Linked DNA regions of Homo sapiens. The protein of the gene in region 4 purifies or fractionates together with the protein of the main gene of each other region. This does not show direct contact. Each region holds a gene or a part of one and is shown on either strand. Other genes may lie near its edges. The genes, in order: INPP5K, PDCD4, MKLN1, AAMP, DICER1, ASAH1 and PCDHGB4.

Evidence for each region.
Region 1: the proteins of AAMP (region 4) and INPP5K purify together in Homo sapiens (affinity purification with mass spectrometry; 3 studies listed by BioGRID and IntAct, with this or other methods). This does not show direct contact.
Region 2: the proteins of AAMP (region 4) and PDCD4 fractionate together in Homo sapiens (co-fractionation; one large-scale study listed by BioGRID). This does not show direct contact.
Region 3: the proteins of AAMP (region 4) and MKLN1 purify together in Homo sapiens (affinity purification with mass spectrometry; one large-scale study listed by BioGRID and IntAct). This does not show direct contact.
Region 5: the proteins of AAMP (region 4) and DICER1 purify together in Homo sapiens (affinity purification with mass spectrometry, with the first as the bait; one large-scale study listed by BioGRID). This does not show direct contact.
Region 6: the proteins of AAMP (region 4) and ASAH1 purify together in Homo sapiens (affinity purification with mass spectrometry; 3 studies listed by BioGRID and IntAct, with this or other methods). This does not show direct contact.
Region 7: the proteins of AAMP (region 4) and PCDHGB4 purify together in Homo sapiens (co-immunoprecipitation; one large-scale study listed by IntAct). This does not show direct contact.

The regions. Positions count from the first base shown.
Region 1 is NC_000017.11:1,510,113-1,513,612, reverse strand, and holds part of INPP5K (inositol polyphosphate 5-phosphatase K), read left to right. Parts: intron 1-51; coding exon 52-160; intron 161-3,500. UniProt on the Homo sapiens protein: Inositol 5-phosphatase which acts on inositol 1,4,5-trisphosphate, inositol 1,3,4,5-tetrakisphosphate, phosphatidylinositol 4,5-bisphosphate and phosphatidylinositol 3,4,5-trisphosphate.
Region 2 is NC_000010.11:110,878,428-110,881,927, reverse strand, and holds part of PDCD4 (programmed cell death protein 4), read right to left. Parts: intron 696-3,500; coding exon 393-695; intron 1-392. UniProt on the Homo sapiens protein: Inhibits translation initiation and cap-dependent translation. May excert its function by hindering the interaction between EIF4A1 and EIF4G. Inhibits the helicase activity of EIF4A. Modulates the activation of JUN kinase.
Region 3 is NC_000007.14:131,491,876-131,494,503, forward strand, and holds part of MKLN1 (muskelin), read left to right. Parts: 3' UTR 1-2,628. UniProt on the Homo sapiens protein: Component of the CTLH E3 ubiquitin-protein ligase complex that selectively accepts ubiquitin from UBE2H and mediates ubiquitination and subsequent proteasomal degradation of the transcription factor HBP1.
Region 4 is NC_000002.12:218,263,629-218,267,137, reverse strand, and holds the end of AAMP (angio-associated migratory cell protein), read left to right. Parts: intron 1-151; coding exon 152-291; intron 292-550; coding exon 551-695; intron 696-990; coding exon 991-1,074; intron 1,075-1,191; coding exon 1,192-1,307; intron 1,308-1,455; coding exon 1,456-1,559; intron 1,560-1,676; coding exon 1,677-1,767; intron 1,768-1,963; coding exon 1,964-2,118; intron 2,119-2,529; coding exon 2,530-2,605; 3' UTR 2,606-3,009; downstream 3,010-3,509. Other genes in the region: GPBAR1 (G-protein coupled bile acid receptor 1), read right to left, coding at 3,421-3,509. UniProt on the Homo sapiens protein: Plays a role in angiogenesis and cell migration. In smooth muscle cell migration, may act through the RhoA pathway.
Region 5 is NC_000014.9:95,088,629-95,091,529, reverse strand, and holds part of DICER1 (endoribonuclease Dicer), read left to right. Parts: intron 1-164; coding exon 165-327; intron 328-420; coding exon 421-496; intron 497-866; coding exon 867-1,032; 3' UTR 1,033-2,901. UniProt on the Homo sapiens protein: Double-stranded RNA (dsRNA) endoribonuclease playing a central role in short dsRNA-mediated post-transcriptional gene silencing.
Region 6 is NC_000008.11:18,077,608-18,081,107, reverse strand, and holds part of ASAH1 (acid ceramidase isoform a preproprotein), read left to right. Parts: intron 1-3,500. UniProt on the Homo sapiens protein: Lysosomal ceramidase that hydrolyzes sphingolipid ceramides into sphingosine and free fatty acids at acidic pH.
Region 7 is NC_000005.10:141,386,232-141,390,497, forward strand, and holds the start of PCDHGB4 (protocadherin gamma-B4 isoform 1 precursor), read left to right. Parts: upstream 1-1,466; 5' UTR 1,467-1,653; coding exon 1,654-4,050; coding exon of another isoform or gene 4,051-4,065; intron 4,066-4,266. UniProt on the Homo sapiens protein: Potential calcium-dependent cell-adhesion protein. May be involved in the establishment and maintenance of specific neuronal connections in the brain.

The DNA.
Region 1 (3,500 bases), on a different chromosome or scaffold from region 4:
GGGGAAGTAGCCTGGAGGCCAGGGGCCAAGCCTCTGAGCTGGCATGGTCAGTTTGCAGGAATTGAACTCTGGGATCATAAGCCTCCTTTCCGATGCTGCCTTTAATGACTCGTGGAGCAGTTTCCTCATGGATGTGCTTTCCCCTCTGAGCTTCATCAAGGTAACTTGCCAGTTCATTGGCACTTGACAACTGTGTTTTCACATCTCCACTGACCCCTGCTTGTTGGGTCTGATGTGTTCCTCTTACTCCTGCTCAGCCTTTCATGCTGTTTCCCATTTGTTTAAAGGGCTAAACCTCCCTTCCACCTGGACCCCGGGGCCCCTGCCTGCCTTCGCCTTTCTGAGGGAGCTGGAGTCTCCAGGGGTTGGGTTAACACCTGGATATGTTTCAGCTTGGGAAGATTCTGAGGGGAGGTGCAGCAGGGCTTGTCATCACCTCAGTGCTGGCCGCTGCCCCAGCCACCAGTCTCTACTCAAATGCCCATCCTGAAGTCTCTGAGTGTAATCATACGGCTGTCATTTATCAAGTGCTTACTTGTTGTTACACATCATAAGTAGCTCTTTATAGTATATATGTTATTTTAAAATCTTAACAAGTCTGTTGAAATAGAGATATTTTACAGAGAAAACCATGGCTCAGAAGCCACATGCGCTATCTGGGATTTGGATCCAGATCTCTCAAACTTCATAACCCAAGTTCTTAACTACTAATACCTTATTGCTATGCTGGTGAACTCTAAGACTGACAGATCTTAGGCGTGGCTAGCCTGCTGGTGTCATAGGGTATCCTCAGGTCATACGGGACGTGCACTTCAGATTCTGGGGGTCCAGAGGTTAGGAGAGGGGAGTCAGGTGTGGTGGGTACTTTGGGCGGCTTTCTTAGTCTGAGAGACCAGTATACTCTGGGGTGTCTTTAGACAGTAGGAGAGTCCACAGGAAGGCCCTGGGTTGCCAGATCTTCACCTTCACCTTGGTTCTGCCCTGCACACCTGAGGAATGAAACACACTCCCATTCACAGCACCTGGTATACAGCTGCTTAGAAATACCAGAATTCCCTCTTTCCCCTTCCTGGATGACTCTTGTTCTTCAGAATGGATTCTGTCAGCCTAGTTTGCCTGGGGGTACTGAGGCAAGAGCTGTGTGTCCTTTGGAGGGGGAGCAGAATGGGGAGGAAAGAATCTAAGGTTTAGAACTCCTGCTGAGGATAGAAAACACCAGCCCGAGTCCTTGGTTCCCTCCACATCAAACCCAGAGGCCTCCTTCTGTAGATAGGGAGCTAGATCCTTACAGAGGACACAACCACTTCTCTCTCACCCGCCACTCCCTTCCCAAGACTGCAGGCCTCCTTGCTTCTCGGCTGACTGGCAAAGGATTGGTAGGATGGAATTGAGCCAAGGAAATTAGCTCAACTTGTGGCAGAGACACAGCCCTTTCTACCCATGTGGCCTACTGAGATTGGGAGGCCAGACTGAGGGCCTGGCACCCAAAATGAATGCCCTTCTTTCCCCAGCCAAGAATCAGGGTGGATGGGTGAGCTCCGTGCATTTGCCAGCTATAGACTGAGAAGGGCTGACCCCCTTCCACTGCTCCAGGGCCCCCAGCCACCTCCTGCTAGTCCTTTCTTCGCTCCTCCTACTTCATTTCCTCCAACTAGAACTTTCCCTAGAACTCTCCTGCTTTTCCCACAGCCCCACCCTTTCTCCCAGTCTAACTCTGTCCTGCCCCGACCCCACCCTCCCCGCCCCCACTTCCCTGCTGCTCCTTCACAAAGCGAGCCAGTGTCTTTGTGGTGGAACCCAGTGGCCTAAAGCTGCTTTGTGGGTGGGGATTAAGCCTGAAACTTTTCCTGAGTCTTTATCAGTCCCCTTGCTTCAATCCTGACCCTGGGAGTCAGCCCCTCATGGTCCAGCCCGTCCTCCATCCCTGTTGGCACGTGTGCTTGGGTGTAGGAGAGAGAAGACTGGGGAGGAAGTAGGCTTGAGGACACACCTGTAGCAACCTCTGGCCCACCTGAAGTTCTGATGCCTCCCTTACCCAGTGCTGGGTTTGAGGTTCCCCCTGCTTCGACTCCGCTATGCCAGGGCTCGTGGCCTGCAGGATCAAGTTTCATAATTCCTGGAAGGCCCCAGTACACGCTCCCCACCCGGGGATTTCCTCCTTGGCCTCCACACTTCATTCTCCGGAAACGGCTCCTCGGGTGCCGGTGGTAGACAGCCTGAACCTGAGAGGGAGAGCTACTGGCTGCGGCCCATTCCCACCCCACCTTTTGCAGCTGCAGATAGTAGGGATCTTGGCAGTCCTAGCCCTTTGATGTTGTTTTACAATACAGGTAGCCCTACTGGTTCCTTAGCCTCCCTAAATCTTAGTTCCTCAACTACAAAACAGGGACGGTGATTCCTTACAGGCTTGGCAGGAGTAAATGAGAGAGGAGGCACTTGAGCAGATGTTAGCTATTCTCCCTAGCCTGTGCACATGTGTCCTTACCCACTGGCATTCCATGGGCGTTGCCTTCATGGACACCCAGCTGCACGCAGTATATAGTTATGGGGTTTGGGGGGAGCATTTTCTTATTTTTTTTTCACTGAGCTATAATGTACACAGAAAAGCATGCAGAAATTCAGTGTACACTTTGATGGGTTTTTGCATATACCCATGTTACCATCAGCCACATCTAGATAAAGAGCAGGCCGAGTACAGTGGCTCATGCCTGTAATCCCAGCACTTTGGGATTATAGAGGCAGGGAGATTGCTTGAACCCAGGAGTTCAAGACCACCCTGGGCAATATGGCAAGACCCTGTCTCTACAAAACAAACAAAAATAGCCGGGCATGTTGGTGCACACCTGTGGTCCTAGCTACTCAGGAGGCTGAGGTGGGAGGATTGCCTGAGCCCAGGATGTCAAGGCTGCAGCGAGCCGTGATTGCACCACTGCACTCCAGCCTGGTAGACAGAGCGAAATCCTGTCTCTAAGTAAAAAGGGAGGAATGGGGGCAGCTGGTGGATAAAGAACATTTCCAAGGAGAGAGGGAGGAAGGGAAGGGGATAAAGAAGAGCATTTCCCAGTATCCTGGAAACCTCTTATGTTCCTTCCTTTTAAGAATGCTTGGCCGGGCGCGGTGGCTCACGCCTACAATCCCAGCACTTTGAGAGGCCAAGGCAGGCAGATCACCTGAGGTCGAGAGTTCAAGACCAGCCTGGCCAACACGGTGAAACCCCATCTCTACTAAAAATACAAGACCTGGTGGTGGGCGCCTGTAATCCCAGCTACTTGGGAAGCTGAGACAGGAGAATCACCTGAACCCAGGAGGTGGAGGTTGCAGTGAGCCGAGACCACGCCATTGCACTCCAGCCTGGGCGACAGAGCGAGACTCCGTCTCAAAAAAAAAAGAATGCTGAAACCAAAAAATAATAGCTTTCAGATAATCCCCACAGCATCTATGAGATGGATTCCTACTTTATCAATGAGAAAATACACTGAGAAACTGCCTCAATGTCAAAT
Region 2 (3,500 bases), on a different chromosome or scaffold from region 4:
ACGTTATCAATCAAATGTATATTTATTAGTAGTAGTAATGGACATAATTATATTAAATAAGTATGATGGATTTCTGACTCCTTTCAAACTTAGAGAATATACGTAAAACTCGTAACAGTGAAAAACATCAGTGTATATTTTGCTGGAAATAAATCGTTAACATTCTGCTCAAGAAAATTAAATCTACTCAAACAAGAAAAAACATCAACCTAAAGAAAAAGTGAGATGGTTCTCACATTATTACTAAGTAAAAATATATACAAACTGTAAAGCCTTACATTTTCACTTTTTGAATCTCTCTCATTCCTAGAACAAGGAAAGTGTAGTACAAGAACCAGACAATTTTTTTCCACTTGTTTATCTTCCATTTGTTGGACATGATATATACCAACCTTTCTTTGGTAGTCCCCTTCCTTTCCCAGATCTGGATCGCCTATCCAGCAACCTTCCCTTTGGACTGGTTGGCACAGTTAATCCACTTCTAAGGGCGTCACTCCCACTGTCGCTGACCGAATCGCCTCTGCCAGAGTCCCGGGATGAGTTTTTCCTTAGTCGCCTTTTTGCCTTGGCATTAATTCTAGCTTCGTTAATGGAGGATGCTGAAATCCAATTTCCATTTATTTCATTCTTTATTTCCTCAGTCCCAGCATTTTCTTCATCACCGGAAAAGAGAGAGTCACTTAAGTTATCAGGATCTTAAAGAGAAAAATGAAGAAAAAAATTCTAAGTATTTTAAGTATCTACTGTTTTATAGATATAGTGGTAAGTTAGATTAGGTTGAATCACATGACATTACCATTTTTGTAGGTAAATTACAGTCACATATTGGGAATTTCATCTACTTCAATCTAATAAACAACTAAATAAGATTACTTTTCACATTATCAAGGAAAGTAAACCAAGGCACTGAATTTTAACAAAGCATGTTTGTTTCTTACCAAAAACAAACCAAATTTGTTTGTTTTTACCAAAAGAAGCATGTTATTTCACGTTTAGATCATAAAATCTATGCTAACAGCAACACCAAATATAAAACCCTTAGACTTTTATGAGCTAATTGGAGATATTAAGAAAAGACAAAGCATCTTGAGAAGAGAGATAAACTAATATTTATAGAATGCCTACTATTAGGCACTGTGCTAGACACTCTATCATTTATTTATGCACAAGTTTGGCAGTTAATTATTATAACATTGAAGACAGATAAGGAAACTAAGGCTGAGAATGTTTAAATGATTTGCCAAACGTCCCATAACTAGGTATAAACACTTAAGAACTATTAGTAATCCAAAAGAGAATGAAAGGCATTTAGCAAATAATCGCATATGATTGTTGAGCTGAACTGCTGATGCTTTACTGCCTCAAGACAAAGTTTGCTTTCAAGAAAAGCCAACATCTCAAAGTCCTAATTCATCTCCCTAAACTTTTCTCCTATTACTTACCATCCTGTAAATCTTCCAGCCTATATAAAATTGATTCTTCTGAAAGAGATCAACATACTGGAGTTCCCAGTAGAATGTCGCCCTCACTGTTATTTTCAGTTATCAAAATCCTTTAGGATATAGCCCAAGTCTTACTCCCTGCATTAAAACTTCCCTTACAACTCTAGGTACAGGAACACTAATTGCTCACATACTATTCATTCAACACGTCATGGAAATCACTTTCTTTTTATATAGCAGTCTTTTTCTTCCAACTAAGTCATAAGCTTCAAAGGAGAAACCACAACTAGACTGTATGTCCTTCTTTGTATCCCCATCACCTAGCAGAGTGTCCTTCATACTCAAATTCCATGGAGATCAAGTGGAGGCACTTGGCTTTGCCCTGAAAGCTCTTTAAGTCAGAAAGGCTACTGAATTAGCTACCACTGGGCCACAGTTTTGTTCATTATTGTTAACGCAAATCAGAGCTGAATCACTCAAATCATTTTCTATATGCCTAAAGATAATTATAACATGTCAGGTCTATGTGCATGGGCTTTAATATGTTTTAAGACATGTTGAAACCAAAAATTTTCACCAACCTATAAAAAGCATACATGTGTTTAAATCTTTACAATTCTTGACATACTTAGGAAGGTAGGAATGTTTTGTTTTAAACAAAATCATCAATTAGAGCCAAATTATTTCACTAGTCTCATAAGTAGTCTCCCTGCCTCCAGTCTTCAAACTATACTGAATGAAGACTGATTTTCTCAAGCATGCCCTCACTGAAGATCCTTTAAAAGTAGTCCCATTATGTCACAAAAAATGTAAACTTTTTTTTTTTTTTTTTTGAGACAGCGTGTCGCTCTGTCACCCAGGCTGGAGTGCAGTGGTGCAATCTCAGCTCACTGCAAGCTCTGCCTCCCGGGTTCACGCCATTCTCCTGCCCCAGCTGGGACTACAGATGCCTGCCACTACGCCTGGCTAATTTTTTTGTGTTTTTAGTACAGATGGGGTCACCGTGTTAGCCAGGATGGTCTTGATCTCCTGACCTCGTGATCCACCTACGTCGGCCTCCCAAAGTGCTGGGATTACAGGCGTGAGCCACCGCACCCAGCCAAAATGTAAACTCTTTACCTTGTAACTTAAGGTCCTTTATGATCTTGCCCCTGCTTACCTCACCAGAATCACTGCTAACTACTCCCACACTCAAATTGTCAGAGCTTAAGTTAGATATCATAGGGAAGAGATGGGAGGGATTCATTTGGCAGAAGAATACTGAGTATATTACAAAAAGAGAAAGTATAAAGTAGGAAACCGCTAAGAAAATGCTTCAGTAATTCAGTCACAAGCTAACTGGTAAAGAGCAAGGGTAGTAACTGTGGGATAAATAATAATGTTACACTTTTAAAGAAAATAATGAAGGACTTTTAAGCAGAATGTATCTAGGATTAAAGAGAAGTCAAACAATGCCTTAAAAGTTTTCAAACTGGTAAGAAGCCGGTGTTAGGATGGTGTGTTTGGGACATCATCATAACCATCAGTAGTAATTATAGTCTTAGTGGAAGTAGTCGTAGTACTGTTTCTTTCATCATTACCATTACTATTGTCATCTATTAGATACCAGGTTCCACACTACCTGGTACCTATTAGATTCCACACTACCTGGTACCTATTAGCTAAGGCACTTTACATATGTGGTCTATAAGCTTCAAGAGCTCTAGAAAGAAACTGTTTATCCTCATTTTACAGAAGGAATGTGTTTCACAAGAAGTTACATATCTAGAAAGGATTATGGCTAGAATTCAAACCCACATTTTTAATCCCATATAACTACAGAAAATACAAAACTAGAATACAGCAGAGTATTGACAGCTAAAGAGACGAACAAGGGCGTGAATGTAAAGAGAGATAAACAAAAATGATTAAGTGGAAGGGGACAGAAAGATCAGGATCACATAAATTAGATGACATTTTCGTGTAAGAGTGGATGGTTGAGAAAAACATTAAACATCTACCTGTAACATAGTGCTTTCATCATTGTGCCATTAAGGTGAACCACAAAACTGGTCCAGA
Region 3 (2,628 bases), on a different chromosome or scaffold from region 4:
CCTAGATTTTCTGTGGCATTCTGTAGGACATTGTATTGCTTGGAAAAAAAAAGATCAAAATCATTCTGGGGCAAATGCTCTATTATCCTTATTTATGACAAGAGAATAATGAAATTCATAAGAAATTAATAACATTCAGATATTGCTATAAATGTACTTGAGTCATTTTCATTTGGGGATAGTAATAATGGCTGTGGCAGCTTTAATGGAGAAACCTGTGTTGGCCTCTTTTTCTGGCATTAGGATCTCTTGTCATAGAACTATTGGTAAAGTACAGGTTTGATAGCAGAGTTCCTGAATTCAGCATATCATCAGAATTTCCATTTACCTTTTGTCTTTTCTTTTTATTGTATTTTTTAACCTTTTTGTTTCTATTCCTACCTCCCATGAGTAACATTGATTTCTGCTGAAGTTAGAATTTGTGTTAAGAATTGACTTTAAACTTCTGAAATAGTTGAATATTAGAAGTGGCTTCAGTTGCCATGAAATGATTGCTTTTCTTTTTCTTTTTTTTTCCTTAAATAAAAATAATGCAGCCTTATATATGTCTCTTCCCCTCAAGAATGTGAATTTAGGCTGGGCATAGTGACTCACGCCTGTAATCCCAGACCTTTGGGAGGCTGACACGGGAAGATTGCTTGAGCCCAGGAATTTCAGACCAGCCTGGGCAACACAGGAAGACTCCATCTCTACTTAAAATATTTTTGTTTTTTAGCCAGGTGTGGTGGTATGTGCCTGTAGTCCCAGCTACTTGGGAGGCTGAGGTGGGAGGATCACTTGAACCCAGGAGTTTGGGGTGCAGTGAGCTATGATTGCGACACTGCACTCCAGCCTGGGCAACAGAGCAAGACCCTGTCTCAAAAAAAAAAAAAAAAAAAGAATGTGAATTTAGCTCCAATTCCAAATGACTAACTCTTAGGCCAGTCATAGCCAATGAAATCATCTGACGGTAGCTTCTGTAGCCCTTAACCTAAGGAGTCATTAGAGGTTATAGTAAATTAGTTTCTCTAGTGGTGCAGAGAGAAATGCCATCGGGGAAATTATCACTGTCTTTTTGGCTAAAGTTTTATATTGTGAACTGGATCCCACTTAACAGCTTAAAAACACAAAAATGAAAGGGTAGTCCTAGTTTATCTTCTTAATTAGAATCATTATTTGGAAATAAGATTTGCAATGTGCTGTCTATCCCCAAACACTGCTGAGCTTGCTGGAAAACAGAATTTAACATGAATGTTGTCTGAAAGCTGTAGGATCAATGGCAAAAAAGGGGAAATGTTTGGTAGGGAATTGGACCAGTTCTAAGGTATCACTTTTAATTATAAAATAATGTCTTCCTTTTTATCTGCTTTTCAGACAGCCTCAGTGAACTATTAAACATTTGTGTGCAAAGTCCTATTTTGCTTATCTAAGGCATTTTGACTTGGAAGTATTAAACTTCAGGAACGAGCTAGAGAAGACAATGAGGGTATGTTAGAGAAGGAAAAATAGGAGCTTTTTGCTTATGGATTTTAGAGGTCCACAAATCGAAAGGAAAAATAAATTTCTTCATTTCTAACCCTAAAATAATTTTGTTAATGAGATGCTGGGAAGAAGACTACCAAAAGGCCTCAAAGCTCATGCTTCTAGAATATTCAGTAATTCTGAATAGTCTTTGGGAAGTAGCATTTCTTGGGAAGTAGCATTTCCCTTCTTCCAAATAACTGTTTGAGATCTTAAAACAGAAAATCCAGTGTTAATGGGCTCTAGATCTTAAACTAGGTGAGCAGCTTCTTACATACAACCAGTTCCTTGTTAAGGATCCAGCAGGAAAACCAGCCATAAAACATTTCAACATGCAGTTTGGGGGCTCCCTTGCTTATTCACTGAGTTTAAGCTCTTGCTGCAACATAGCTCTGTACCATCTGGGATGCTAGCAGTCACAGCAGTTAGCTCAGATATCTGAGCTGTCTGCCACACAAAGCCTGAGGAGATCATCATTCTTCAGTTTCATTCATTACTTAATGAATGCCAAATTAATTGGCAGGAAGAAGAAACACTGTGTGATATACTGAACAAGCCTGTGTGCATGAATAAGGAGCCACTCAAAAAGCCAATTTTGAGCTTTATTTCTCCGTTGTTAACAAATCTCAAGAAAGCCTTTGTTACAGTTTAGCTCATGTCATTTGGTTGGTTTTATTTTCTAGCCCTTTAACATAGGAGGAAAATTGTCATTTCATGTATAACTTGTAACACAGAATTGAACTGATACTAGTTTCCTTGCCTTAAATTAATTATATGTCATCCCAAGGGTCTCTGTTAATTCTGCTTTGCCAAGCAATAATGAGATCTGGGTTTGGCATTAGAAGTATTTCATAATTTTGGTTTTTTATTTAGGTTTCCTCCACATCTGTAAAGTGATTGATTAAATTAGAGGAGGCGTGTAGAATAAATCCCAATCCCATTGCAACTGGCAGAGCTTTATAAATCTTTATAAATTCAGTTACAACAAAGGAGAGGATCCTACACCATTAGAGCCATGCCATCAGGTGTTTGCAAGTGACAGCTGTAGTGTGTTGCCTCAAATAATACCAAGTTATAAATAATACCAAGTAATTATCAACTCACTCCCAAATTTAATAAGATATCAAA
Region 4 (3,509 bases):
GTGGTGGTGAGTTCCAGCACCTGTTCTGCTCAGTCCCGCCCCTCTTTTTTTCCTAGCTGGTCCTTTCAGTGGGCCAGATACCAGAATCACATGCCCCCAGCACCAGGTACCCTATTTTTTTCCTCTGTTTTCTGCCCACTTTTCTTTGAAGGCCATAAAGACTCTGTGACTTGTGCTGGTTTCAGCCATGACTCCACTCTAGTGGCCACAGGGGACATGAGTGGCCTCTTGAAAGTGTGGCAGGTGGACACTAAGGAGGAGGTCTGGTCCTTTGAAGCGGGAGACCTGGAGGTAAGATCATCAGAGCGGGAGTCAGCTCTGTGGGGCCTTGGGTTGTTGGGGGTGCAAGCTTGGGAGGCCAGTTCTGCCTTTATTGCGCCAAGCCAGCTCTGAGCCAATGCGCCCCAAGGCACAGGAAGAATATCTACCTGCTACCTGGAAAGTCCCCGCGGAACCCCAGAGGCAGGAAACCTTGGGTGGAGCTCATGGGGCAGGCTTCTAGGTGGGATGGGGTGACGGGCCTCCCTGCTGCCCCTTCCTCCCTGTCCAGTGGATGGAGTGGCATCCTCGGGCACCTGTCCTGTTGGCGGGCACAGCTGACGGCAACACCTGGATGTGGAAAGTCCCGAATGGTGACTGCAAGACCTTCCAGGGTCCCAACTGCCCAGCCACCTGTGGCCGAGTCCTCCCTGATGGTGAGAGCACCTCCCTTGAGTGACCTTTCCTGGGTGCAGAGGCCGAATCCCGGGATATACACCTCCCAGAGCAGCCTTCTGGGTCACAGCCGGCAAAATCTGAGGCCTGCTGTTTGCAGTGCTGACCTCCTGGGCCCCAAAGTTCACAGCGCCTCCTTCCTGCTCTGAACTCACCTGTGATTCCTGGGGCAGTGTCTGGGCCCTTCCACTCTTCTTTCCTCTCCCTCTCCCCATTCCCTTGCTTAGTGTATGTGAGCGTGCCCTCTGCCCTCTCTTCATCTGTGCCTCTCTTCAGGGAAGAGAGCTGTGGTAGGCTATGAAGATGGGACCATCAGGATTTGGGACCTGAAGCAGGGAAGCCCTATCCATGTACTGAAAGGTATCAGAGGTGGGGGAAGTGTTAGCCTGGGCCTTTGTAGGGAGGGGCTGAGAACCTGGGGCAGGACTCAGAGGGGAGGTAGGACGAAGCCTGAGCTGCCTCCCTGCTCTATGCTAGGGACTGAGGGTCACCAGGGCCCACTCACCTGTGTTGCTGCCAACCAGGATGGCAGCTTGATCCTAACTGGCTCTGTGGACTGCCAGGCCAAGCTGGTCAGTGCCACCACCGGCAAGGTGAGTGGACCTGGAGCCCGGCTGGGGCCTCCGCTTTCCCGACTCCTCTCCTTCCTTCCTGGGTCTTCACTGTCTCCTCTCCCCACCGTCTTTCTCTCCATCAAGCACCCGGATTCCGTGTCCTCCTCTGATCCTCTCTGGCTTTCAGGTGGTGGGTGTTTTTAGACCTGAGACTGTGGCCTCCCAGCCCAGCCTGGGAGAAGGGGAGGAGAGTGAGTCCAACTCGGTGGAGTCCTTGGGCTTCTGCAGTGTGTGAGTGAGGATGGGGAAAGGGGTTTGTGGGAGGGGCCTGGGCTGGGGGCCCGGGAGGACGGCAGGGCGTGTGAGTCCAGGCCCTCATGAGTCTTCATGGTACGCTCCTCTGGCCAGGATGCCCCTGGCAGCTGTTGGCTACCTGGATGGGACCTTGGCCATCTATGACCTGGCTACGCAGACTCTTAGGCATCAGTGTCAGCACCAGGTATGGGCAGCTGGAGCTGGGGTCCCTGTGGGCTGTGTCCATAGTGGTGGGGAAGCCCAGGCCTCCAGGAGCATCTACCCCAGATCTGGCTCCTGCCTGGCCCTTGTGTGTGGCTGTCCCTCTTTGAGAATTGGGAGCAGATGGCTCTCAGCTCTCCTGCCAACCTCCGCCCTGCCTCTGTCATTCCTCGGGGCAGTCGGGCATCGTGCAGCTGCTGTGGGAGGCAGGCACTGCCGTGGTATATACCTGCAGCCTGGATGGCATCGTGCGCCTCTGGGACGCCCGGACCGGCCGCCTGCTTACTGACTACCGGGGCCACACGGCTGAGATCCTGGACTTTGCCCTCAGCAAGTAAGTGAATTGGCCAAGGGCTGGGATCTTTGTGTATTTGGAAGGTGGCAGTAGTATGTAGGGGACACAGGATCCTTGGGGTGTGGGAAGGGATTCCTAAGGCAGGAATGCAGAGAAGCCTGAGGGTTCACAGCCCAGCCCCCATTCCAGTGGCTGACAGTGACCCTCCGGGGCCCCACGTCTCAGTCATGAGGGAGAGGCTGAGACTGATTTTCCCCATCGGAGTCAGCTCTGCTTCTCCCGTGCTGGGGGCTTCCTCTAATCCCCTCCATGCTGGCTGCAGAGATGTCGGCCCAGTGCTAGGCACTAGGGCCCTAGAACTGAGGGTGTGCTGGAGGAGCCCACCCTAGGGCCCCTAGGTGGTGGGCTTGGGTCCCCCAGTCTCTGCAATCACATGCTTTCTGTTTACAGAGATGCCTCCCTGGTGGTGACCACGTCAGGAGACCACAAAGCGAAAGTATTTTGTGTCCAAAGGCCTGACCGTTAATGGCTGCAGCCCCTGCCTGTGTGTCTGGTGTTGAGGGGACGAAGGGACCCCTGCCCCTGTCTGCCAGCAGAGGCAGTAGGGCACAGAGGGAAGAGGAGGGTGGGGCCCTGGATGACTTTCCAGCCTCTTCAACTGACTTGCTCCCCTCTCCTTTTCTTCTCTTTAGAGACCCAGCCCAGGGCCCTCCCACCCTTGTCCAGACCTGGTGGGCCCTTCAGAGGGAGGGGTGGACCTGTTTCTCTTTCACTTTCATTTGCTGGTGTGAGCCATGGGGTGTGTATTTGTATGTGGGGAGTAGGTGTTTGAGGTTCCCGTTCTTTCCCTTCCCAAGTCTCTGGGGGTGGAAAGGAGGAAGAGATACTAGTTAAAGATTTTAAAAATGTAAATAAAATATACTTCCCAGAGACAGAGTCTGTGTGGATTTTGTGATGGCTGGACCCTAGGAGGAGCTAGCGAGGGCCCCGTCAGGGCAAGGCTGTCCCGCAGAATCGGCTGGATGTTGAGATGTGCCAGCTCCCCATCTCCAGGGGTGGTCTGTGCGCACGACACTTCTTGCCTGCCTGGAGTCGGACTCTGCCTTAATCCACGCGTATGTCTGTAGGTTCTTTCTATTGTTGGTGTGTTGAGCCATTTCCTCCTGCCTCGCCCTGAGATATGGAATGAGATAATCATAAACGGCCAGAGGAGCTTTATTCAGTCAGTGCGGGGTCAAACAGAGGCAGGGTCTCTGATCCAGAGAAGTGGGGCCCGGTAGAGACAGGCTGGATGGCTGAGCTGGACGGATGCTCTGGTAGGAGTCAGCAGAGGCCCTTCCTTTAGTTCAAGTCCAGGTCGACACTGCTTTGGCTGCTTGGGTGGTAGGCAATGCTGGGGCCGGGACTGTCCCGGGAGGCTCTTCCCCACA
Region 5 (2,901 bases), on a different chromosome or scaffold from region 4:
AACATTTGTTTTACTATTACAATATAGTAGGCATACCATAAATGGTATTTCCCCCCTTACTAAAGAAGTAACAAAAGTCATATATCCAAGAAAAGAAACTACATCTGTGGACTGCCTGTAAAAGTGGCCTTTTTGCTTACAAGTCACTTTTCCCTCTGTAATAGCTTAGGAGATCTGAGGAGGATGAAGAGAAAGAAGAGGATATTGAAGTTCCAAAGGCCATGGGGGATATTTTTGAGTCGCTTGCTGGTGCCATTTACATGGATAGTGGGATGTCACTGGAGACAGTCTGGCAGGTGTACTATCCCATGATGCGGCCACTAATAGGTATTGTTGGCTCCCTTTAGAAAGAAAAAAACCCACAAAATTAAAAACAACTTCAGAGATATTATTCATATTATTCTTTCATTTTGATTGCAGAAAAGTTTTCTGCAAATGTACCCCGTTCCCCTGTGCGAGAATTGCTTGAAATGGAACCAGAAACTGCCAAATTTAGGTAAGCAAAAAATGTACATGGAAAAAACATTAACTTAAAAACATCAAAGGGGAAAAGTTCACAAAGATATTGTAAACTAATGATTCTGAAAAATATTTACACTGTGGTGTGCTGTTGTCAGATTTCTGTTTGTAATCTGATTGACTTCTCTTTTTTCCTTCTGTTTTTATGAAATAATGCTGTAATAAAGACTAGACGGCAGCCCTGTCTGTCGGGGGTATGCAATTGCAGTAAGTCGTAACGCGTGTTTCCTTTGTGTGGTGTCAGCTTATACATGGGACTCCTGGCCTGAGAGTGCACACTAAATGCTGATTGACAATGATAATAAATACTTCTGACTTCTAATTCAAGCTGTTTGGATTTTTTACAGCCCGGCTGAGAGAACTTACGACGGGAAGGTCAGAGTCACTGTGGAAGTAGTAGGAAAGGGGAAATTTAAAGGTGTTGGTCGAAGTTACAGGATTGCCAAATCTGCAGCAGCAAGAAGAGCCCTCCGAAGCCTCAAAGCTAATCAACCTCAGGTTCCCAATAGCTGAAACCGCTTTTTAAAATTCAAAACAAGAAACAAAACAAAAAAAATTAAGGGGAAAATTATTTAAATCGGAAAGGAAGACTTAAAGTTGTTAGTGAGTGGAATGAATTGAAGGCAGAATTTAAAGTTTGGTTGATAACAGGATAGATAACAGAATAAAACATTTAACATATGTATAAAATTTTGGAACTAATTGTAGTTTTAGTTTTTTGCGCAAACACAATCTTATCTTCTTTCCTCACTTCTGCTTTGTTTAAATCACAAGAGTGCTTTAATGATGACATTTAGCAAGTGCTCAAAATAATTGACAGGTTTTGTTTTTTTTTTTTTGAGTTTATGTCAGCTTTGCTTAGTGTTAGAAGGCCATGGAGCTTAAACCTCCAGCAGTCCCTAGGATGATGTAGATTCTTCTCCATCTCTCCGTGTGTGCAGTAGTGCCAGTCCTGCAGTAGTTGATAAGCTGAATAGAAAGATAAGGTTTTCGAGAGGAGAAGTGCGCCAATGTTGTCTTTTCTTTCCACGTTATACTGTGTAAGGTGATGTTCCCGGTCGCTGTTGCACCTGATAGTAAGGGACAGATTTTTAATGAACATTGGCTGGCATGTTGGTGAATCACATTTTAGTTTTCTGATGCCACATAGTCTTGCATAAAAAAGGGTTCTTGCCTTAAAAGTGAAACCTTCATGGATAGTCTTTAATCTCTGATCTTTTTGGAACAAACTGTTTTACATTCCTTTCATTTTATTATGCATTAGACGTTGAGACAGCGTGATACTTACAACTCACTAGTATAGTTGTAACTTATTACAGGATCATACTAAAATTTCTGTCATATGTATACTGAAGACATTTTAAAAACCAGAATATGTAGTCTACGGATATTTTTTATCATAAAAATGATCTTTGGCTAAACACCCCATTTTACTAAAGTCCTCCTGCCAGGTAGTTCCCACTGATGGAAATGTTTATGGCAAATAATTTTGCCTTCTAGGCTGTTGCTCTAACAAAATAAACCTTAGACATATCACACCTAAAATATGCTGCAGATTTTATAATTGATTGGTTACTTATTTAAGAAGCAAAACACAGCACCTTTACCCTTAGTCTCCTCACATAAATTTCTTACTATACTTTTCATAATGTTGCATGCATATTTCACCTACCAAAGCTGTGCTGTTAATGCCGTGAAAGTTTAACGTTTGCGATAAACTGCCGTAATTTTGATACATCTGTGATTTAGGTCATTAATTTAGATAAACTAGCTCATTATTTCCATCTTTGGAAAAGGAAAAAAAAAAAAACTTCTTTAGGCATTTGCCTAAGTTTCTTTAATTAGACTTGTAGGCACTCTTCACTTAAATACCTCAGTTCTTCTTTTCTTTTGCATGCATTTTTCCCCTGTTTGGTGCTATGTTTATGTATTATGCTTGAAATTTTAATTTTTTTTTTTTTGCACTGTAACTATAATACCTCTTAATTTACCTTTTTAAAAGCTGTGGGTCAGTCTTGCACTCCCATCAACATACCAGTAGAGGTTTGCTGCAATTTGCCCCGTTAATTATGCTTGAAGTTTAAGAAAGCTGAGCAGAGGTGTCTCATATTTCCCAGCACATGATTCTGAACTTGATGCTTCGTGGAATGCTGCATTTATATGTAAGTGACATTTGAATACTGTCCTTCCTGCTTTATCTGCATCATCCACCCACAGAGAAATGCCTCTGTGCGAGTGCACCGACAGAAAACTGTCAGCTCTGCTTTCTAAGGAACCCTGAGTGAGGGGGGTATTAAGCTTCTCCAGTGTTTTTTGTTGTCTCCAATCTTAAACTTAAATTGAGATCTAAATTATTAAACGAGTTTTTGAGCAAATTAGGTG
Region 6 (3,500 bases), on a different chromosome or scaffold from region 4:
GTTTTCATTTGGGGTGTATGTTAAATTTCAGGTGGCAGAGAGGCATCCAGCAGGCCACTCGGACTGGCACTCAGAAGAGAGACACTGAGAGTCACTGGCATAATGATATTATATTTGAAGCCCTTGGAGCAGATGAACTTACCTAGAAATAGGATAGAGAAAGAGAAGAAAAGAGAACTAGGCAAAGGCTAAGTAACTTGCACATGTATGTGTCAAGAAGAGGAGAAATTGCCAAAGTTAAAACAGGACAGGCCGGGCGCGGTGGCTCATGCCTGTAATCCCAGCACTTTGGGAGGCCAAGGTGGGCAGATCACGTGAGGTCAGGAGTTTGAGACTAGCCTGGCCAACATGGAGAAACCCTGTCTCTACTAAAAATACAAAAATTAGCTGGGCATAGTGGCTCACGCCTGTAGTCCCAGCTACTCAGGAGGCTGAGGCGGGAGAATTGCTTGAACCTGGGAGGGAGAGGTTGCAGTGAGCCAAGATCCTGCCATTGCACTCCAGCCTGGACAATGAGCGAAACTTCGTCACAGAAAACAAAAACAAAAAAATAGGAGAGTAAGTGGAACAGGAAGCTCAGGGAAGAGACTGGGACAGGTTAACTATGTTGAATATTATTGAGATGTCAGTGGTATTATGATGTTGGGCAACTGGAGGTCATTGGTCACCTCGACTGGAGCAGTGTTGGGGGCAGAAAACAGCTTGCGGTAGGCTAAGTGTGATTGGCAGGAAAGGAACTAGAGGGGAGAGATGGCTGCTCTGCGTAATAAATCTGACCCACTTCATAAGATGTGCGAAGATGAAACGTAATGGCTTAGTAATTAATTGCCAAAGTAAACTTGTAAACTCATTTTTATGCATCAGCTTCTCATACTAGTTAACAGCGTATGTCAACATTGTTGACATTAGCTATTGAATCAGCTTTAGCAATGATTTTCACGCAGTTGCCAGAAATCTCATAGACCCCATCTGGCCTAGGAATTTATTGCACTTCATCTGCTTTTCCCTACTTCTCCCAAAGAGGGAACACACAGGTGTAATCCATTCACTTATTCAACAAATACTGCTTGCCTACTATGTGCCAGACTCCTAAACGCTGGGAATGCGTCAGCCAATGAGATAGATGAGGTCCTTCCTCTCATGGAGGGTTTATTCACATTCCTTTGACCTAAATATCAGTAGCTTAATAGGATGCCATCCCATCAAAGCCCAGAAGACAAGTGAAAACATTTTCAAGCTCATGTGAATTCTTGTACACGTAGGAAACATGCCTCTTTGTATTCAGTGTTTCTGCTGAGTTGTACATAAGAGGACATTATAGGAAAAACTTGTCTGCAAAATAGTTGTTGATGAATTCAAGAATTGAATGAATGAAAAATTGTCTGGCTAGAGTTGTTTGGCTTCTGGTGGGTATGAAAACTGACATGAGGTATGTAATTTTAGATTATCCTTCATTGTCTCTTTCTGAGTATTTCAATAAGACAAGCACACAAGGGCTTTCTGGACTTTTAAAATTCACTATTAGAAGCATACATTATTTCATTGAGGGTCTCCTAATTCTTTCGGGCTCAAATATTTTAAGGAGCTGTACAAGTTATGCCATTTTTTAAGGGTATGGCGCTTTCATTGAGACCTTAATGTTCTCTTTATATTTTTGTGTTTTTTTTAGAATGTTGTGTTCAGTAGCTCTGTAATTAATTTCTCTTAATGAATGGGGAGGACATTCAAAGAGGCTTAAGTTTCTATCAAATAACCAGAAAAATTAGAGAATTTTCTGACCCAAACAGTCTTTTAAAAGCACTTTCCAGAGAGTTTTTTGTTTTTTTTTTTTTTCTGAGATGGAGTCTTGCTCTGTCTCCCAGGCTGGAGTGCAGTCACACTATCTCGTCTCACTGCAACTTCCACCTCCCGGCTTCAGGCAATTCTCCTACCTCAGCCTTCCGAGTACCTAGGATTACAGGCACATGCCACCCAGCTAATTTTTGCATTGTTAGTAGTAACGGGGATTTCGCCATGTTGGCCAGGCTGGTCTTGAAGTCCTGACCTCAGGTGATCCACCCACCTCAGCCTCCCAAGGTGCTGGAATTACAGGCATGAGCCACCATGCCTGGCCCAGAGAGTTTCAAATGCATTGAAATATCAGATTTTTACCACTTATCTTCACTCTTAGGAGACCACTGAGGGGCAGGGAGAAAGGTAGGGAAGGGCAGGGAGAGAGAGAGAAAGAGAGGTACTGTGGGGAGAGGGTTAGAGAGAATTGATTCTAAGTTGGATTTTGTTTCCTGTGATAGGGTGTACATAGTATACCATCCAGACCACATAATCTCTCTTCTTATCATCTGTTTCTAATCTTTACCTATCATCTATTTAAGTTTTTACCTGCCTTAATAGAGTTGTCTGTTATTAAACTGTTTATAAACTTGGGGATAGTAAGGAACTTTAAATAACATTAAGTAAGTTCATTATAATTCTGTTTTAGGGCTACTCGTGGGTTTTGAAGCTGTGTCTCCCTGTAGAATTCTTTTTTGAGGGGGAGGAAGTAGCTCTTTTTTCCACCCTACCCCTAAAACTAACCTTTTTGCATAAACGACTTAGGCGTTCATGCCATGTGAGCCCCTGAAATACTGTAGTCTCATAGCTGCCAACTTTCTTATTTTCTGTCACACTTATCCTATTTCCTTGCAGCCAGGTTCTATGCCAATTTCACGTTTGTTTATTGCTACCAAGAGTCGTTATCAACCTCAGACTCACTCCACATGTATTGTTGCTAGCTTGCTCTTTAGTTCTTACCTCTGGGGCAGGTCACATTCTCTCCTAATACTAGACAGAGCATTTTCAACTTTGCTCACAGTTGTCTAGTAAGAAATGTGCCTGTAATTTGATGTTTATTTTGGCTTTGGAACCCAGGGCGTGCAAATGTCATTATTAGGAAGGGATAGGAGTCATTACGTTTCACTTAATTTGCCGAGTTGATTCTAGTGATCACCAGAAGCCCTGAACTACGCGCAGATTATTCTGTTAGGAATTAAATTGAGGCATTGGTTTTATTATCTCTGTGGGAAGCTGTTTGATAGAACAGGGAAAGCCATTGACTCTGATTCTGTCACCAGCTGTGTAACTTTCTACAAGTCACTAATGGAGCAGGGTCTTAAGTCCACAACATGATCATAAAATTAAGCACTTGGGTTAAGTACCCATCACAGTATTCCCAACTCATAGGAAAACAATGGTCAGATAAACAAGAAAATGTAAAGCGGAGTATCTCCTCACAGCAGAACTTATTTACAAATTTTACAAAGTAAAATTAAGTTGCAACCCCTATAAGTCTCTAAGTAGCTCATTTATTAGCAAAATAAGGAAAGCCATTTACCAATGGTGGATTACCTAAATTGTATTCGATTGTAGTAGCAGAAGTATTGTGTCCAGGGAAAATGAAATTATTTTACATGTCATTGAGAACCCTTGTCCTGGACTTTGGGAAGAACATCAATATCAATTAA
Region 7 (4,266 bases), on a different chromosome or scaffold from region 4:
AATTCAGTTGGAAATAACCCAATCTGGGATTAACTACTTCCATATTCTTTTGTATAACATTTTAGTAAAGCTCAGTATATCAAGTGATTGTCATCCAGAAGGGGTGGATGACAAGGTAATCTTGATTCCAGAGACCTTTGAGTATTAATTAAAAACACACTTTTAGCCAGGTATGGTGTTGCAAGCTGTAGCCCACCTGCATGGGAGGCTGAGGCAAGAGGACAGCTTGAACCCAAGAATTGGAGGCCCACCTAGATAATATAACAAGACTCTGTCTCTTCAAAAAAAGACTCTTTTTAGACTAGTGTTGTATTTGGTAGTATTTTGCACATGATAGACTCTGTACAATAGTGTGGGGGATACATTTTTTTTTTTTGACATGGAGTCTCGCTCTGTCACCCAGGCTGGATACATTTTACAAGTTCTGCAGTGTTCACATTTCAGATGTACAATCACTTGGGGTAGAAGACAATGTTGCTGACACCAACAATGTTACTGAGGGAAGATCCTATGGCAGAACTACGGTTATAAGGTATTTTGTAAAAGAAAATCTCCTGACCAAAATTTATTAGATGCATAAAATTGTTTTTAAGCAATGGAGAGACATAATCACTAAACTCAGTGAGCTATTGCAATCAAACTTTCCAGGGATTGTTTCCTTCAATTCAGAGGTCACCAAGGAATGTAAAATAAGTGCAGAGGTAGGAAGCAGTGCTTCAGTGCAGCAGATCTCAGTGACTTTGTGTTTTGAGGCTATGTATTATCCCCCTGATAACTTTGAAGATGAATGTTGTATTTCATAACCAGTAAAATAATTGTGTAATGAGGAGAGGAGTAGGCTACTGCCTGTGATCATCGAAATGAGAATCACATAATATTCCTGTAATGAAATCACTGAAACTATTGGGAAGGGGGTGTATTTGAAGATAAGTATAAATTGCACCTTCTAAAAGGCAATTTTGGTATTACTGATACTCTCCGGAAAAAGTTGAAATAAATCAACTTGGAGGTACTTAGAAAAGTGGAGAAAATGTTAGGAACAATGAAAGAAAGATAAAATGTATCCAGTATATTTCTAATGAGTAAGTATGGAAAATTACTGTACTCTGAGACGGTTTAGGCCAAGTCTGTGTTATGGCTATCTTTATATAGATAGTGCATGTTTGAAGATTGGGGAAAGCTTATGTCAATAAATGTTTATGTACTTAATCTACATGATTTGCCTAAAAATCCTCAAAGTTGGGATGAAGGCATTCCTAAGAGTACATTTTTAGACGTCATTAAATATACAGACGTATCCACGTAGTTTTTGTTCTTTCAGTTAGGCACACAATTATAATTATTGCACTGGTTAACTTGAAGCAGCAGAGGCTGTAGTTTCCTAGTGCTGACTCTGGGCGCCGCTGTTGGCCAAAGTGGAGAGCTTGGCGCTCCAGATCTCCTCGCGCAGCCGCAGCGCGCTTTCCAGGGCAGCCCCAGCTCAGACTCCCCAGCGCCAGCCTTTACACCGCTTCCTCCTCGGAAAAAGAAGAATTTTTTCTTGAACTGGAACTGCAACTAAAGTCCGTTCGGAGATCCAAAAATCTGCAATACAGAGGTTATTTGTAACCCGGCGTCTCCAGGCTGGTGAGCAAGCTGAGGAGAGCAAGAGGGATGGGGAGCGGCGCCGGGGAGCTGGGCCGGGCTGAGAGGCTGCCAGTGCTCTTTCTCTTCCTGCTGTCTTTGTTCTGCCCGGCGCTCTGTGAGCAGATCCGCTACAGGATTCCCGAGGAAATGCCCAAGGGCTCCGTAGTGGGGAACCTCGCCACGGACCTGGGGTTCAGCGTCCAGGAGTTACCGACTCGAAAACTGCGCGTCAGTTCGGAGAAGCCTTACTTCACCGTGAGCGCAGAGAGCGGGGAGTTGCTTGTGAGCAGCAGGCTAGACAGGGAGGAGATATGCGGGAAGAAGCCAGCTTGTGCTCTGGAATTTGAGGCTGTTGCTGAAAATCCACTGAACTTTTATCACGTGAATGTGGAGATCGAGGACATTAATGACCACACGCCAAAATTCACGCAAAATTCCTTTGAGCTGCAAATAAGTGAGTCTGCACAGCCTGGCACACGATTTATATTAGGATCTGCCCATGATGCGGATATTGGTAGCAACACACTGCAGAATTACCAACTCAGTCCCAGTGATCATTTCTCACTGATAAATAAAGAGAAATCAGATGGCAGTAAATACCCTGAGATGGTATTGAAGACACCTTTGGACAGAGAAAAGCAGAAATCCTACCACTTGACTTTGACTGCCTTGGACTTTGGAGCTCCACCCCTAAGCAGCACTGCACAGATACACGTTCTAGTGACTGATGCCAATGATAATGCTCCAGTGTTCAGTCAAGACGTATACAGGGTGAGCCTTTCAGAAAACGTGTACCCGGGGACCACGGTGCTACAGGTGACTGCCACGGACCAGGATGAGGGTGTCAATGCCGAGATTACTTTCTCTTTCAGTGAAGCTAGCCAGATCACCCAATTTGACCTGAACTCTAACACCGGGGAAATTACTGTTTTAAATACATTAGATTTTGAAGAAGTCAAAGAATATTCCATAGTTTTGGAAGCAAGGGACGGTGGAGGAATGATTGCGCAATGCACAGTGGAGGTAGAAGTCATAGATGAAAATGACAACGCCCCAGAAGTGATATTCCAGTCTCTACCCAACCTAATTATGGAGGACGCCGAGCTGGGAACACATATTGCTTTGCTCAAAGTCCGTGACAAGGATTCCAGACACAATGGAGAAGTGACTTGTAAATTGGAAGGTGATGTTCCATTTAAAATATTAACTTCTTCAAGAAACACGTATAAATTAGTGACAGATGCTGTTCTAGACCGCGAGCAGAATCCAGAGTACAATATAACCGTTACGGCAACAGATCGGGGCAAGCCTCCCCTCTCCTCCAGTTCCAGCATCACCCTGCACATTGGTGATGTAAATGACAACGCTCCGGTTTTCTCACAGTCTTCCTATATAGTCCACGTGGCCGAGAACAACCCGCCTGGAGCCTCTATTTCACAAGTCAGGGCTTCTGATCCGGACTTGGGGCCCAACGGCCAAGTCTCTTACTGCATCATGGCCAGTGACCTGGAGCAGCGGGAGCTGTCATCCTACGTGTCCATAAGCGCGGAGAGCGGGGTGGTGTTCGCGCAGCGCGCCTTCGACCACGAGCAGCTGCGCGCCTTCGAACTCACACTGCAGGCCCGCGACCAGGGCTCGCCAGCGCTCAGCGCGAACGTGAGCCTGCGCGTGTTAGTGGACGACCGCAACGACAATGCGCCACGGGTGCTGTACCCCGCGCTGGGTCCCGACGGCTCTGCGCTCTTCGATATGGTGCCGCACGCTGCAGAGCCTGGCTACTTGGTGACCAAGGTAGTGGCGGTGGACGCAGACTCAGGACACAACGCCTGGCTGTCCTACCACGTGCTGCAGGCTAGCGAGCCCGGGCTCTTCAGCCTGGGGCTGCGCACGGGCGAAGTGCGCACAGCGCGTGCCTTAGGCGACAGGGACGCCGTCCGCCAGCGCCTTCTGGTCGCCGTGCGTGACGGTGGACAGCCACCACTCTCGGCCACTGCCACGTTGCACCTGGTCTTCGCCGACAGCTTGCAGGAGGTGCTGCCGGATATCACTGACCGCCCCGACCCCTCTGACCTCCAGGCTGAGCTGCAGTTTTACCTAGTGGTGGCCTTGGCCTTGATCTCAGTGCTCTTCCTCGTGGCCATGATTCTGGCCATTGCCTTGCGCCTGCGACGCTCCTCCAGCCCCGCCTCCTGGAGCTGCTTCCAGCCTGGTCTCTGTGTTAAATCCGAATCCGTGGTTCCCCCCAACTACAGCGAGGGGACTTTGCCTTATTCCTACAATCTATGTGTTGCACATACAGGAAAGACGGAGTTTAATTTCCTAAAATGTAGTGAGCAGTTGAGTTCAGGACAAGACATACTTTGCGGTGATTCATCTGGGGCCTTATTTCCACTTTGTAATTCCAGTGAATTGACTTCCCATCAGGTGAGTTTCCTTTAAGTATAATTTAATGCTCATTGCCTACCCATTTCTCCATATTCACAAGAAAATATACATATTTGCAGGAAAATATATAATTTTTAGATGTCATGGATCATTTTAGGAAAGTTGTAGTCAGTTAAAAAGCTGTCATATCATTCTACAAAGGAGGAGTAAAGTAGGAGCAATTGTGTGGCCCAACATTTGTTTGTTTTTTAGCCA